Linked DNA regions of Homo sapiens: region 2 is linked to region 1. The links come from fine-mapping of genetic effects on gene expression. Tissue or cell type: thyroid. Region 1 holds a variant in brackets; the other region holds the start of a gene. All regions are shown on one strand. Distances are from middle to middle.

Region 1 (7,986 bases):
CAATACATTGTCTGCTACCTACAAAAAAAAAGTAATGGAAGTAAAATCTAGAAATACTACTCCAAAAGAAAGTGTTTATGTAGCATTATTTCCTCTTCACATATGTTGCCTTTTTTTCAGCTTTGTAACATTTCAACTGTGTGGTTTTGGTCAAATTGATCAATCTCTGTAATCCTTGGTTTCGTGATCTGTAAAACGGAGAAAATGTGGTGTAATGCCACCTCATTGAGTCACTGTGAGGATTAAATGAAATAATGTATGTTAACTACCACTTCCTTTATAATATCCGAGGAGATTTTTATTTGGATCTCCCTAGCTTCGGACAAGAGAAATACTTCTTACAGTCTAAGAGTAACTTAGAATATGCCCCAAATATGAAGTTACAACCCAATTTTATGTTATGCTATGGAAATCCTAAAAGATATTTCTTAGAAAACCTGAAGTCTAGCATGAGAAAGATTGAAAATTTAAAGAGCAAAGTGATTGGAAACTCACTTATGAAGCCTATAACTTAAAATCTCATAATTAAATGAGCCAATATGGTTCTGGATGGCTCTGCTCAGATCTCAGTTTCAGACCACCTACCTTCAATGGGAAAATGGTATATGCCTGATATATTCTGTAAAATACCAACTTTATCTATGAGGAGGGAAGCTGTCACTGGTTACAAAAACAGACCATGGCTGGAGGTGTTGCAAGACAAAGAATCACACACTCTTTTTACACTTTCTCTGTGACCCCAAAATCAAAAACCCAGAGCCAATTTATCAGAAATTCACCCTAACTGAACACAGTGCCCATTTCTGCACAGACTACCTGTGGAGCAAGTTCAACAGCACTTGTATAGAGAACACCAGCACTTATTTGAAGCACTGGGGGTGCAAAAATGAAATAGAATGCATCCCTGCTCTTGAATGCTGGTGGGACATGGTATGCATGCTCTGTCAGAATTTATCATCTTCTCTCTCAACTCTGATTTCTTCACTGTGTTCCCATTTCTGTTTCTACACCATTACTCTGCACCAATCACTCAGGCCAGCAGAGCAGGGAGGTGATTTTCGATTCCTCCCATTCCTTTCCTGACTTCTTACAGATGCCAAGTTCTACCATTCTCCTTCCACAGTATCTCTAATATCTTTCTCTCCCTGCCATGTGAGAATATAGTGAGAAGGCAGCCTCTGCAAGCCGGAAAGAGGGCCCTCACTAGACACAGAGTTTGTTGGCACCTTGATCTTAGACTTCCCAGCCTCCAGAACTGTGAGAAATAAATGTCAATGTTTAAGCCACAGAATCTTTGGTATTTTGTGATAGCAGCCCAAGCTGACCAAGACAGTGATAGACGCAGGCATACAGCATAGCCTCCCAGGACAGAGGAGGGTGGAGAAGGGCCAAGCGTGAATCTGGAGGGACAAACTAAAGCCACCCAGTACAGACAGCTCTTAAGAGATAAGCAGAATTTGCAGTACAGCAGCAATCTATGTTTCACAAACTGCCACAGTAAATAATCTATCCTGTGTTATTGTTTTCTGTGGAATTCTCAAGCAGCAAGAGGGAATATTACCATGTAATCATTTCCCTTTATTTCAGTAATTTAAAGAGTGAAAACCTTGGAGCTTTTTTCTCCTTGAGAGACCAGAGCATATTTGTGGGTCCAATAACACCTTTGCAAAACAGAAGAAACATTAACTTTATCTTTATATTATCCAGGCAGAAGAATGCATTCTAATAAGCAATGAAGTGAAAAACCCTACTGTGATTGAATTTATTTTTCCATAGAAATGCAGGAAATAGTCATGAATGTTTTACTAAAATGCTTCCTAATCATAAGTGTATATCCGTGTCTTCACAAGTCATGTTTTTGAGCACTGCAACTCTCCAAGCCAGCAAAGAACTCTGTAAAATTGTCTTTAATCCCTCACAAATGACTCAGGAGTCCCACTGAGGCTTTATCACGTATTATTTAATAAATTCATGAATCTACAAACCAGAAGATGTGGAAAAACCATAGCAACCAGGAGCAAGATTGGAGAAGTTGGCCAGGGTTGAAGGACGCTAGGAGGCACATACAGCCTTCCTGAGCTCTGAAGCCCCTCCCTCCCGGCCCACCCCACATCACTTGACGTTGCCTTAGCCACACCTCTGCCTTCCGCAGACTCAGTACAGGAACTTGCAGCAGAATGGGCTTCAAGAGTTTAACTGCTCTAGTCACCTGCCTTCAGATAAATTATTAACACTTTATACATGAGGAAAATAAGACCCTAAGACTTTAAGTAGCTTGTCCAAAGTCACAGATTAATACATAGAAGAAGAATATGTAGGATGAACAAGCCTAGAATCTCATGTATGACATGAGGACTATAGTTAAGAAAATTATATTGTATTTTTGTTAATAAATAAATTTTAGCTTTTCTTGTTACAAAAAGAAGTAACTATGTGAGATGATAGACATGTTAATTTGCTTTATGACAGGACTATTTTACTATCTATATGTATCCCATAACATTGTGTTGTAAACCTCAAATATATACAATACAATTTATTAGAAACAATAAACAGAGAATGATAACTAAAGTCCTGATCTTCCTAGCACAATACTTTTACCAACTCCAATTTTTGCATGTTCTGGCTCTACAAATGAGATGAGGGAAAAGAGAACACAAATTCCCTATACATTTCTGATGCAGTAAACATAGCAATTGAAAATAGAATGCTGGAACTGTAATTCATGTGTAAAATTACACTCACTGATAAAAAATTTTTTCACATTACAGTAAATTTGCCCTTGAGAAAACGTGGTGAAATATTTCAGGTATTATTTTCTGTCAGCCTAGCCAACACGACCCAGGGTACTTTTATTCTTTCCAAGTCCTCATAATTGCTAGAGAATTTGTTCATTTCTTTAATGATAAATATTGTAGGAACACGAGAGCAGGTGTCCCTGAAATAACATTAATTAGGCAAACTAAAATCACATATGCATAAAGAACAAGAACAAAAGTTCTCTATTTAGAGCTAGTAAAAGCATGACTGGTATAAAGCTTACTGTCACGTTGTTGTCATTGTCACCATCATCATCCTTGTTATCATCTAATCGCAAGGCAATCTCACTAAAGACAGACAGAATTCTCATATTCTTTCACGGTCCCTAATGAGATTACCTTAACCCTATCCCTAGCTCTGCACATCCTGTGACATTAAATGATGCTTGTAAAGGACCATCTCTGCTAGATAATTTTGGTATTTTCATTCTTTTCTGAAAATCAGTACAGATTACCCAGGCTTTGCACCCCCAGAGGATCTGAGTCAGTGTTTTGGGATAGAGCCCAGCCATCGGTATGTTGTAAAAGCTCCCCAGGTGATTCTGATGAATCAAAACACAGAAGACTGGGCTCTGTCCCAGAATGACTGACTCAGAATCTCTGGGGCTCAAGGCCTGGGAGACATTCACTTCAAAAAACCTCCCCTGGGTGACTCAGATGCATATCAGAGAGTGAGAAATGCTCTCCTCAATTGACAGGCATAAATCTATCCACAACATCAGGAGGATACACCGGAGTTACAACCAATATCAAATGAATATTTGAATACAGACTCCAGCCATGGCCATAGCTAATCTCCCGTTGGCTTTCCAATTTGGATAAATGCTAAATTTGCTCATTAGGGTAGCTGTTGGCATATTTAAATATACCATGGAGACTGCAACTTTAGTGCATCTCTTGCATTTTCATATATTCACAAATCACCTTTATGAAGACTAGCTTCACAGAAAATAATTTTTTAAATGCACGTTAACAAGAACAGAAACCAAGCAACAGCCTCAATTTGAGAAAATGTTTAATTTTACCATAGGAATCTTTTTGTTCCCTCTCTTCACATGTTAAAATAAATCTGAGGCTATTTACAAAACCTTGTGCTGAATTAAGTGAAACACAAATGAAACAACCCTCATTATTAAAAGTCTATAAATTAAAATAATAACAAAGGCTGACCCCAAACTCCACCTAAGATGAGAGCAACCCGACATTTCAAGAAGAAACACTTTCCCAGAGAACAAGTCATGAAGCATGACATCTTAAAACTCCAGAGTACAAAATGTCAACACCAAAAGGACTGAGTTGGTAAAAATTGAGAAAGAGTGGGTACTGAGAAGTAAAATCTGTTTCAAACAAAACTAACTCCTGCAAGATTTTGC[A/G]CTTCACTGAATAACTACAGCACATTGGTGTGTTCATTTTTTTCTTTTTTCTCTACAGATTCATTCCTTCTACTTTGTACAAGCCCTAACAGTAAGCTATAAAAATGTCATAAATTATTACAGTGCAAATAGTGTAAAATCTTATGCTCACAAGGAGGTCCAAAGTGGTAATCATGCATTCCTTAGTTTGAAATACAAAGAAAAACATGCTTTTTGCTTACAAAGTAAAATGATGACAATTGCAAAACATCTCAGTAGAACTGGTACCTAATTTCTGTTGCCAGTGAAGGGAGGGGAGATATTAGGACAGGTGTTAGAAAGGACAATGGTATAACTAAACCGTCATTCACTTAATGGAAGTCCCAGTATGATGAAAGAACAATGTTATTTTTAGATCAAATCCTTCCTATCCAGCATGTCAGTATAAAAATTGCTTCTCAGAGAACCAAAATAGGCCGGGCACAGTGGCTCATGCCTGTAATCCTAACACTTTAGGAGGCCGAGGTAGGCGGATCACCTGAGGTCAGGAGTTCGAGACCAGCATGGCCAGCATGGCCAGCATGGCGAAACCCCATCTCTACTAAAACTACAAAAATTAACTAGGTATGGTGGTGCATGCCTGTAATCTCAGCTACTCAGGAGGCTGAGGCAGGAGAATTGCTTGAACCCAGAAGGCAGAGATTGCAGTGGGCCGAGATCGCACCACTGCACTCCAGCCTGGGTAACAGAGGGAGACTCTGTCTCAAAAACAAAACAAAACAAAACAAAAATAACCAAACTAGAATGGTTGAAGTATTAACAGACCAATACAGAAGTTGCTGTTTGCCACAGAAACATGAAAATAGAACCAGTGTTATTCACTGTGCCCATGGGGCAACCCGTGCTTGAAGAAAAGGGCCCCTCCCATCTCCTTCAGATCCTGTAATCATATTGTTCCTCCTCACCAGACACCAACTCATTTGGAAGGATACAGAGTCCAAGTAGGTCCTATAGTATGTCTCCAGTGAGTCCTTGCAGTTCACAAGCTGTGGTGAAGCCACATTAATACAGCTACTTCTCAACAATTGGAAGTCAGATAAAACAGTGGATGGGAAATATAATCAGAAGTCAGTCATAATGGAAAAATTTGCATAAATCAACAGTTTCTAACTCTCCCAACCCCCAAGACTTTCTCAACACTCCTAAAAAGCAACAAATGACTGATTTGCTTTTCACATCCTCTCCCTTCTTTTGCTCTTTCTCATTGTCAGCAGAACAATACGCAAAATGTGACTGACAAGAAAGAGAAAGAGGAGCAAAAGGACTCTATAACATTTCTGTCATGTAATTACTGAGGACTCAAGAGTTGGCTGGAGAGGAATGACCCCTGCCCAGTTTCTGCTGCTAGTAATAATTTGGAGTCCTGGAGGACAGGCCAAACTCAACATGCCTAAAATTTAATTTAGCACTGATCACCCACGAACACCTCTCTCCTTCCAGCCTCGCTAGTCTGTCAAAGTTGCCATGTTAAAACCTAAGTGTTACCCTTGGCTCCTTCTTATTCTGGCATCAAGCCATGTCTAGTCTCCAAATGATTTCAGCTCTTTCAGAGTTCTCAGAATGTTCCTTTCTTTTAATTTCCATTGTTTGGGCTGAGAGTTAAAGAATGCAGGAATTTTCTAAACAACACATTTGGGAAACATTCCAAGAAACAGAACCATCTGCATCAAGATGCAGGTTGTGAGAGGATGGCACACTAGGAACTACCGGTGACCTGGTATTATTGCAATCCAAAGTGGCAAGAAAGGAGGTGAGAAAGGCCTGTAGCAGGAAGGACCTTTGATTTCTCAATGAGAAGCTTGAATGTTTTCCAGCAGCCAGTGTTTTGCAGACTTCAGTAGTTTAACTAATGACTTACCTACATACCACCCATATTATTCTTATTTGCTTAATAGTTTTTCTCTGAACTCACTTATTGTTCCATATTAATCAACTTATTTAACATTGAAATTTTATTTTTTATTTTATTGATTGATTGATTGATTGATTTGAGATGGAGTCTCGCTGTCACCAGGCTGGAGTGCAGTGGCGCGATCTCAGCTCACTGCAACCTCCGACTCCCTGGTTCAAGTGATTCTCCTGCCTCAGCCTCCCGAGTAGCTGGGACTACAGGCATGCGCCATCACATCCAGCTAATTTTTGTATTTTTAGTAGAAACGGGGTTTCACCATGTTGACCAAGAGGGTCTCGATCTCCTAAGCTCGTGATCCGCCTGCCTCAGCCTCCCAAAGTGCTGGGATTACAGGTGTGAGCCACTGCGCCGGCCTGAAATTTTATTTTAACTCAAACATTTCCTTATGAAAACTTTGAAATATACACAATAGAGACAATAGTATAATTAATCTACATGTACTCAGCACAGCAAATATCAGCCCATGACCAATCTTGTTTCCTTTGTACTCCCCTAAGCACCACCGCTACCTCCACCTCCATCAGCACACACACAAGCACACCCTTCCTGAATTACTTTAAGCAGATCACAGACATTATATCTTTCCATCTATATATAATTTGTATCTGTAAAGGATAATGACTATAACGCCATCATCACACCTAAAAAAATTAATAACAATTCCTAAATATCATCTTACATCCAGAACATTAAAATTTTACATCACTGTCATATATTAAAAACTGAAATAATTTGCCACAAATTTTTAAAAGAAAATGTTATTAACATTATGGCATGATATGCTTGTAATTGGAACACTTAGCTTGAAGGCTCTTCTCCTTACTAAAAACTGAGATTAGAAAATGTTACACTGGTCTTCCACTTATACATCCTCATTGTCAGAAGGAGAAGGATTGAAAGGGAACTTAAAATGAAATAAATTTTTCACTGTGTAATTTAAAATTATTTAACACCATGTCTGAGTACCACCTAAATCTTGCATTTAACCAGGAATATCTGTCCCACACTTCAAGAGACACTGTTACAGGGAATCATCAAAGAATTTAGGGCTTGATGGAATTCCTAATTGCGAAGAATTTTTCTAGCAGCGAAAAGAGCAGAAGGGAGGTATGATGGAGAAACGGACAACCTGTATGTCCCACAACTTACTGAGCCACTTTCAAATTTCTTGAAAGTTTGTTTGGCTCAAATACTGTAGTTCTCCTAGTGCTCCAATAGGGGAGCATACAGACTCGCATGCCTTTGACCAAGGGTAGACCTCCTCCAATTGGAAAGACCACTTGCTTTGACCAATCTCACAGCTTCTGGGATAGGGACCACACGTGCGTATAGGAGAGGAAGGGGACTTAACCTAGCCAACCCGGCTGAATAGAACCTTGCTATCAATGAGGTGACTGATGTCACATCCTGATGACCGTCACATATCATACCATCATTTCTTGAACCATCACTGTCACCCAAGATACCCCCCACTTCTCCAAAGCCAATCTTCCCTAGAAAGGGGCTTTTGTGCCAGGTTCTAGAGCGTCCTTCCTCATAAGCACTCTTTTCTGTGAATAAATTACCAATTCTTCAAGAAATGCCAAAATAAGACATTTTTCAGAATACTGCTCACCTCCCCTTCCCCAATACACATACATTCAAATATCTTCCATGGCTCCCCTTTCATACAGGGAAAGCACCACATTTTTGACATGCTTTTCCGTTTTATGGTTACCATCTTTTTGCCATATCTTGTATCTACAACTTGAATATGAGTCCCGTGCTTTTACACTGATTCAGTGGTTAATCAGTTCTTCCTATAGGTAAAGTACTATGCTTAATGCCGGTGATACTAAGATGA
Region 2 (6,884 bases), 260 kb before region 1:
CTTGTGAAAATATTAGCCTGGACCACTTAAATTGACATGTCAATTACAGCAGTGTCTCTTTCAATTGCCTTCACAGAGAGAAGCATTTTTCACTTTAGGGGGTCAGACAATGCTGTTAAGTTCTGAAAGAATGAAAATCTGAATATTTGAAATGTTAGAAAAATTCTCCATGACATGAGCAGTAATTCATAAGTTATATAGTATGTTCCTGGGGCAGGGTGCGGGTGGAGGGTATAGTGGGAATAGATAAATTATTTGCCACATTTTAGTTTAAATTTCAAAAATATCTGATAGGTCAAATTCTCTATGGCTATATTTTAAGAAATTTTAAATATATTTCTTATCTATACTGTTGTAAGTGAAGGAAGAGATCTCAACTAATCTTGAAAATGAGGAAAAATTGTGGAGTGGTTGTTTGGGTGATCTCAGAATGGCTCTGCTTGGCACCACTGGTTTAACTTTAGAGAGTAAATACTCTTTAGATGTCTGGAGAACAAATATCCTAAGCACGTATCAGTCACACACATTTTCAGAATCAATCAGTCATCAAAGAGGGATTAATACTCTGTTCTTCTCAACAGAAAAACACAAAACGACTCTTCTTGGCCTCAGCTTTCTGGAAATGTGTCTGCAGGAAGCCAGTGCCTAAAATATTGTGTCAAAAATGCTCATATGTGTTCATTCACATGAAGACAACCACTAAAGTGCTCCTGGGACACATTAACATCCATGAGAGGAATTCTTCTGCTGAAAATACACCATCTAGTGGTGCCACCTGCTCGGCTTCTGAAAAATCTGTCTCTTGACAATCTATTCCAGTTCCAGCCTCTTAACCAACCAGAAGTGTCTAAATAAGATGGAAAACTAGGCCAGGCACAGTGGCTCACGCCTGTAATTCCAGCACTTTGGGAGGCCCAGGTGGGTGGATCACTTGAGGTCAGGAGTTCGAGACCAGCCTGGCCAACCATGGCGAGACCCCCATCTCTACTAAAAATATAAAAAGTAGCCGTGCTTTGGTGGCACATGCCTGTAATACCGGCTACTCGGGAGGTTGAGGCAGGAGAATCTCTTGAATCTGGGAGGTGAAGGTTGCAGTGAGCTGAGATCACATCACTGCACTCCAGCCTGGGCAACAGAATTAGACCCTGTCTCAAAAACAAACAAAAAAGATGGGGAAAAAAAAAACTCACCATTACCATTATCTGAACCTGGCTTAGGTGAGAATGTTAGTAACCATAGTGACCATAAAACTGCCAATGCCTCCATTTAAAATGTTTAAACCTCTCTGCCCTCACACATTGTGGTGTGCCCACCTGGGGTGAGTCATTGAAGGAAGAGGATTTATTTAGCCCATTATCTCAGCATGCCAGTTGAGTGGCATGGCCTCGTGAGCCAGCTATCTTCCTCTGCAGGCTGGGGCCCTCAGACAGCTCTCTGCACTAATTTTCAGAGCCAATCAGAAGGGATCCGTGTGGCCATTTGAGCCTGTTCCTAAAGCCCAAAGAGGGCTTTACCAGTGGACATTTGGTGATCTCACTGTACTAAATGCTACCTGTGACCCTGCATGGAGGGTGTTTCTTTTATCTTTCAAATAATTAGTTTGTACAGATAAAGCCTAAAGAAATATCTGGCTTTTGGCCGTTTTTGTTTTCTTGTATCTTTTTTTTTTCTTTTTTCTTTTTCTCTTTTGGCTCGGGCCATCAAAAGCCCACAAAGGTTTGGTCCTTCTGTGCATCTCCATGAGGGTTTATCAACCTGATCCCATTCACTATGGTTCCCACTCACAGATGGTTTTCACAATTCTTATTTGCATAACAGTACCAGCTCTTTTAGGGTCCAAGGCATTGGATGAACCTTTAGTTGCTTCTCTTCCTACAGTGTTCCTTTAAGATTTTAAAGGTCAAGATGACTGATTATAATCCAAACATGTTTCCTTACTTTGCCTTGAGGCTAATTCTGTTTCTTGAAGCTAGGTGAGTATGAAGCAGCTGGTTCACAAATGAACCCTTGAATTCCAAAGCCTACAGCAGCCCCTAAAAATGCAGATCTCAGACCACACTGCTGGCAGCTGCTGTGCTCAAGTTGAAGACTAAAGGTCAGTAGTTGAGGTTGGGACACACATTAATAGTTTGACGAATGAGAAACATGCTAATGATTATCTCTCTGGGTAAATTTAGATACAGTTGATTTTCAAGGAACTATGGCTATACAGAATCCTTAAACTTCTGCATATGTTATATTTAAGGTTCTATGGAAAACTTTCTTTTTTACTCAGATTCAATTAAACTGAACAAGTGCTGAAATGTGAAAAATAAGAGGTGTGGCAATCTATAGCTGTCCAGATGCTGTGTGTGACAGGGGGAAGGGGGGTACCTTGGATAGCAGCAAACCCAAGGGATGCTGGGCCTCTGAACTCCCCCTCTCCCTACATGCATGGATTTTTATCTGAATAAAATCCATTTGAAAATGATCTCAGAGGGAGACCTGGATGTCAAAGTTGTAAAGAAATCCCACGAAGAAAGAGTGAAGGATATATGTGGAGGGTAGACACATTGACTGCACCATGTTGAAGGGGTTACAGATTCCTTGAGGGTGTAAAATCGGACAGCCAGCACAACCCAGCTGTCTCCTCTCTTGGCTATATTCATAAGTCATTGTCCTGCCAAGATAGGGGTAAGAGGGAGGATGACTCCCACTGTCCATCCTCCACTGCCTCTTCCAGGAAGCATGGAAGCTCTGGGCAGAGAATTCTGCATTGCACATGAATAAAGAGGAGCCAAAGGCAAGATGGAAACAAATTGTCAAGTTACGTGTCATCTTAATTCTTAATATTTAATATCAGCATAAATCAGTAGCAGCTCAGCTCCAATGTACTGTTTTAGCCTTCAGGGGCCCAATTTGAATTCAAAGAAGTATATGCTATACCATGAAAGATTCAGTTTAACTGATGTACTTCAGTCAGTTTTTGGTAGATCCTGGAAAGTCTTTGAAAACAGCTATAGTTTGGGAAGCTAACTAACTGCACAGGGACCCAAATATAGCTGGAAAATATGTGGCTCCCAAGCCAGAGGGACACTAATGCATTTCACAGTCTGCTAAGACAGTTGGGATCTGCTGAACCATCCACCAACCACCAACATTCTCCATATCTTCAAGGAAATTGGAAAATATAAGAAAAATTTGAATGAATAGTATAAAAAAATAAGAGAGGGACAAAATCTGAAAGAAAGTTTCTACCATTCTAGTCTGGCATCTACTTTTCATTGGTGTAAAACAGATACCAACAGCAGAGAAGAAAGCTCCCAGCCAGTGGCACATTCCCCTTGGGAAGAACCTTTTTTTAAAAAAAAAAAAATTAAGGTGGGTTCTCTGGTTCTTACGAATTTAAGAACTCTAGCTAAACATAATAAGGTCTGAGAGACAGGAGAACACCTATTTTCAAGGCTGCAAGAGCTGGATTATCACTTTCTAACATTTTTGCAATCAAAAAATTATCTTTTAAAGAAGTTTACTAATTTTCATGGGATGATCACAGATTAGCTGCAAGCAATTTGCTCATGAAAGGGCTTTTTATAACACATCATAGATTACCAATAAATGGGCTGAAATGACTTCATACTAAATGTAAAACAGATTACCTTTCCATCTGTAATTCAGTGTTCAAAAGAAACAAAATATTAGCAAGTTATTCATAATACATAATTCATTTTTATGTGAGCATTAGTAATTCTGGCCTACTTGTGGTCCGGATAAACCCATATTTATGATGTTGTAACTTAAAGTGTCTTTCACTCTGTTCATGGTGTTCTTTTTACATTAAAAAAAAAAATTAGAAGTAGGGAAGGCCATAGCTTCTCATTTTAAATGTGCTCATTCCTGGGGAGCTAAGCATATGAAAATTATAATCCAACAAACATCTGTTTCTAAACTACTGATGCTTTAGCATGAACTAGAAATATAAATTTTAATCTGATGACTGAAAGCATCCCTTTAACTGTTTTTTTTTTTTTTTTTTTTTTTTTTTTTTTTTTTTTTGAGTAGTCCAGTGGGATGACATCTGGAGGGGCTATGCTTTAGATTATTTATAGATGTGGGCAATAAGAGCTACATTTATGTTGTCAGTGCTGTTTGCCCTCGTTTAATTTCTCAAATGACCTAATTATATGTGTTCTCAATATGTCTTGGGAGGAAAATAATTGCTGATACTGTCAAAGGCAAAATGCTGAATATGTTTCAGTGCTTCTCACATTCCATGGCCTGATTATGGGCATCATTAAATTACACGTTACCATTCTTCCGGAACATCGCATTGAACATGTCCTAATGTTTCACAATGAGAAGTGAAGCACTTCCTCTTACTTAAAAAGAAAAATATTTGATTTTTACAGGATGCCTGACACTAATGCTTACTATTCTGCTATCTATGATGTCTTCACTTATGGATATATTTATTAACAAGTACTTATTAGCTATTTAACATTTCCTCTACTGAGTGTTATTAATTACAGATGCTGTATTAGTTTCCTAAGGCTGCTGTAACAAATTACCACAAACGTGGTGACTTAAAACAACAGAAATTTATTCTCTCACGGTTCTGGAGGCCAGAAGTTCAAAATACAGCTGGGACCAAAGGCATCTCTAAGGAAGGATACAGTCCTTGCCTCTTCCAGGGTTCTGGTGAGTGTCCCGGCATTCCTGGCTGGTGACCACATCACTCCAATCTCTGTGTCTGTGATCACATTGCCGCCACCTCCTCTTCTGTGTGTGTCTCTTTTGTGAGTCTTTCATAAGGACACTTGTTATTGGATTTAGGTCCCACTCAGATAATCCAATATGATGTCCCCTTTTCAAGATCCTTAAGTTAATAATATCTGCAAGGACCCTTTATCCAAATAAGGTCACAGTGACAGATTTGGGGGATTAAGATGTGGACAGATCTTTTTTGGAGTCACCACTCAACCCACTGCAGATGGCAAATTTTAAATGGCAATGGTTGGTAGCCTATAGGCAGATTTTTGATTTTTAAAATCTGCTATTTAAAGATAAGTTACACAGTTGTTTTCTTTTTCTCTAAAATACCTCAAATAAACACTGTACCTTTTTGGACGTAACCTCTTGCATCAGTGAGGTCCATGAGTTAAATGTGCTCATTTGCTTTAATACAACGGATTTTATTGCTGGTATATCTAATGGTGAAAATATGGATTTAATGTTGGTATTTGCACGCCACTAAAAGAACAAAAGAGCCTCCAAATCTCTCTTCTCCCCTCTTCTGACAAGGCTCTCCAGGTTCTTATGGGTGGTCCATGATAGTGAAAGACAGTGAAAAGAAAGATCTCAGAAGTATGAACTCATTTACTATATCCTCAAATATCAATCGAACCCCCACTTCGTGCCCTGTAATATTCTAGACATTGGAAGTAGAGACAGCTGACTTCCTAGGGGATGACTTATGTTGATATATAGGGCCTTGTGCTTGGAAGGTCCCCACCCTTGGCTCAGTGCTCTGTTGTTGTTATCTTAAAATTATTAATATTCATTTTGCACTGGGCCCCATGGATTATGTAGCAGATCTTGAAAAGAACAGTGGACAATATAGGAAAGCTTCCAGCTCTCAAGGACTTGTCAGGGTATCTGATGGTAGACAGCCAGCACCAGTGCCCCAGACATAAATATGTGATGCTGAGCCCTTTGGGGTCAAATCTAAGATAAGCCAGTAAAGAATGTAGTGTCACATTTGGATATACTGTAATGGTATCATGGACTGACTCACAGTTTCTGATTTTGTCTTCTATCAAAACTTTCTACTTATTAATATGAAGCTTCATTTCTAAATTTCAGAGCAGCATCTCCCAAGATACAATCAGAATTGTCTAACTAACTGTTTTCTTAAGAAAATCTTTCAGGGTTAATGACCATCATAAACCCTCTCTCTAACATAGACATTAGTTTCAGCATTTGGGAGGGGGAAAGGACCTTGGAATCATTGCCAATAAGAGCAATGTTTTTATAACAAAATATGTTTCAAATTCTATCTATCTTGGACATCTCTTTCAGAGAAGATAAGTTGTGTAATATTGATACTCTGAGAAAAGGCAATTCATTTATACCTCCTTCTAAAGAAGTGTTGTCTCAATATGTTCATCATAGTGGCATGCCGGATTATATGAATGAGATCTGGCTCCTTAAATCTTCAGGGCTTCCCAGCAATCTATTTTTAACATAGAACAAGCATATAAATATATATGTTTTTAATCCATATTACTCCTGAAAGGAATAAACTCAGAACTGAAGTTGTTGGTGGAAGTTTAATGCAGTTCAATTAAGGATTTGTATCCAAAAGAAGTTGTTGCTTGTACTTCCATTTCTGCATTAGTCACACTAGATATATAGTCACTTTTAACAGCATTGTGCCATTACCAGTGACTTTAATTACTGTTTGGTAATCTTATCTACTTACACCAATATTAATTAAGTCCATCTGGTGGGGGGAATGGGGGGTCATCTCAACATATGTTGATTGAAAAATGCAAACCATAATCTTTATAGTGGCTAATTTTCTCAGACCCTTCGTTCCTGAGGACAGAAGGAGGTGAACACACCATTAGTTCTAAAAATTAATTCTAATATAGGAACTTGTTTTCTCTGCCTGTTTTAGTGCCTCCTGTTGGAATGAGCTCACTAACCAGTGGAAACAAACTGTTTATCCTTCTATGATGTTGCAACTGCCTGGGCTTTCTAATGCGTCTTCAGATTTCGGTTTGTACTCAGAACAAGTGAGAAAAGTTTTACAGCAACTCCACGAAACAAAGCAGACAGGCTCTCCTGAAGCCAAGGAGTTATGAAAAAGGCAGGCATCGCGCATTGAATCAAGTATGCCATTA

Direction of the effects. Alleles are on the strand shown, and positions count from the first base shown. SD is a standard deviation of normalised expression in the study named.
For the expression in thyroid of the gene that starts at base 4,005 in region 2, A is the low allele of the variant in region 1 and G is the other (large effect, 0.83 SD a copy in GTEx).

The links. PIP is the estimated chance that this variant, and not a neighbour inherited with it, causes the effect.
Region 2: SLC35F4-AS1 starts here. The variant in region 1 is fine-mapped to the expression of SLC35F4-AS1 in thyroid (GTEx, PIP above 0.99).

The regions. Positions count from the first base shown.
Region 1 is chr14:57,830,093-57,838,078 of GRCh38, forward strand. The region is part of intron 1 of SLC35F4 (solute carrier family 35 member F4); the gene reads right to left. It also overlaps the pseudogene RN7SKP99. Among named protein-coding and RNA genes, the nearest start is that of SLC35F4, 32 kb to the right of the region's middle. The variant A/G (reference allele first, on the strand shown) is at 4,193.
Region 2 is chr14:57,574,329-57,581,212 of GRCh38, forward strand. It overlaps SLC35F4-AS1 (SLC35F4 antisense RNA 1), which reads left to right and starts at 4,005. Exons shown (of 2, transcript XR_007064193.1): 1 at 4,005-4,677; 2 at 6,659-6,884. The region is part of intron 4 of SLC35F4 (solute carrier family 35 member F4); the gene reads right to left. It overlaps LOC105370519 (a long non-coding RNA gene), which reads left to right. Exons shown (of 5, transcript XR_007064194.1): 4 at 1-918; 5 at 1,970-3,952.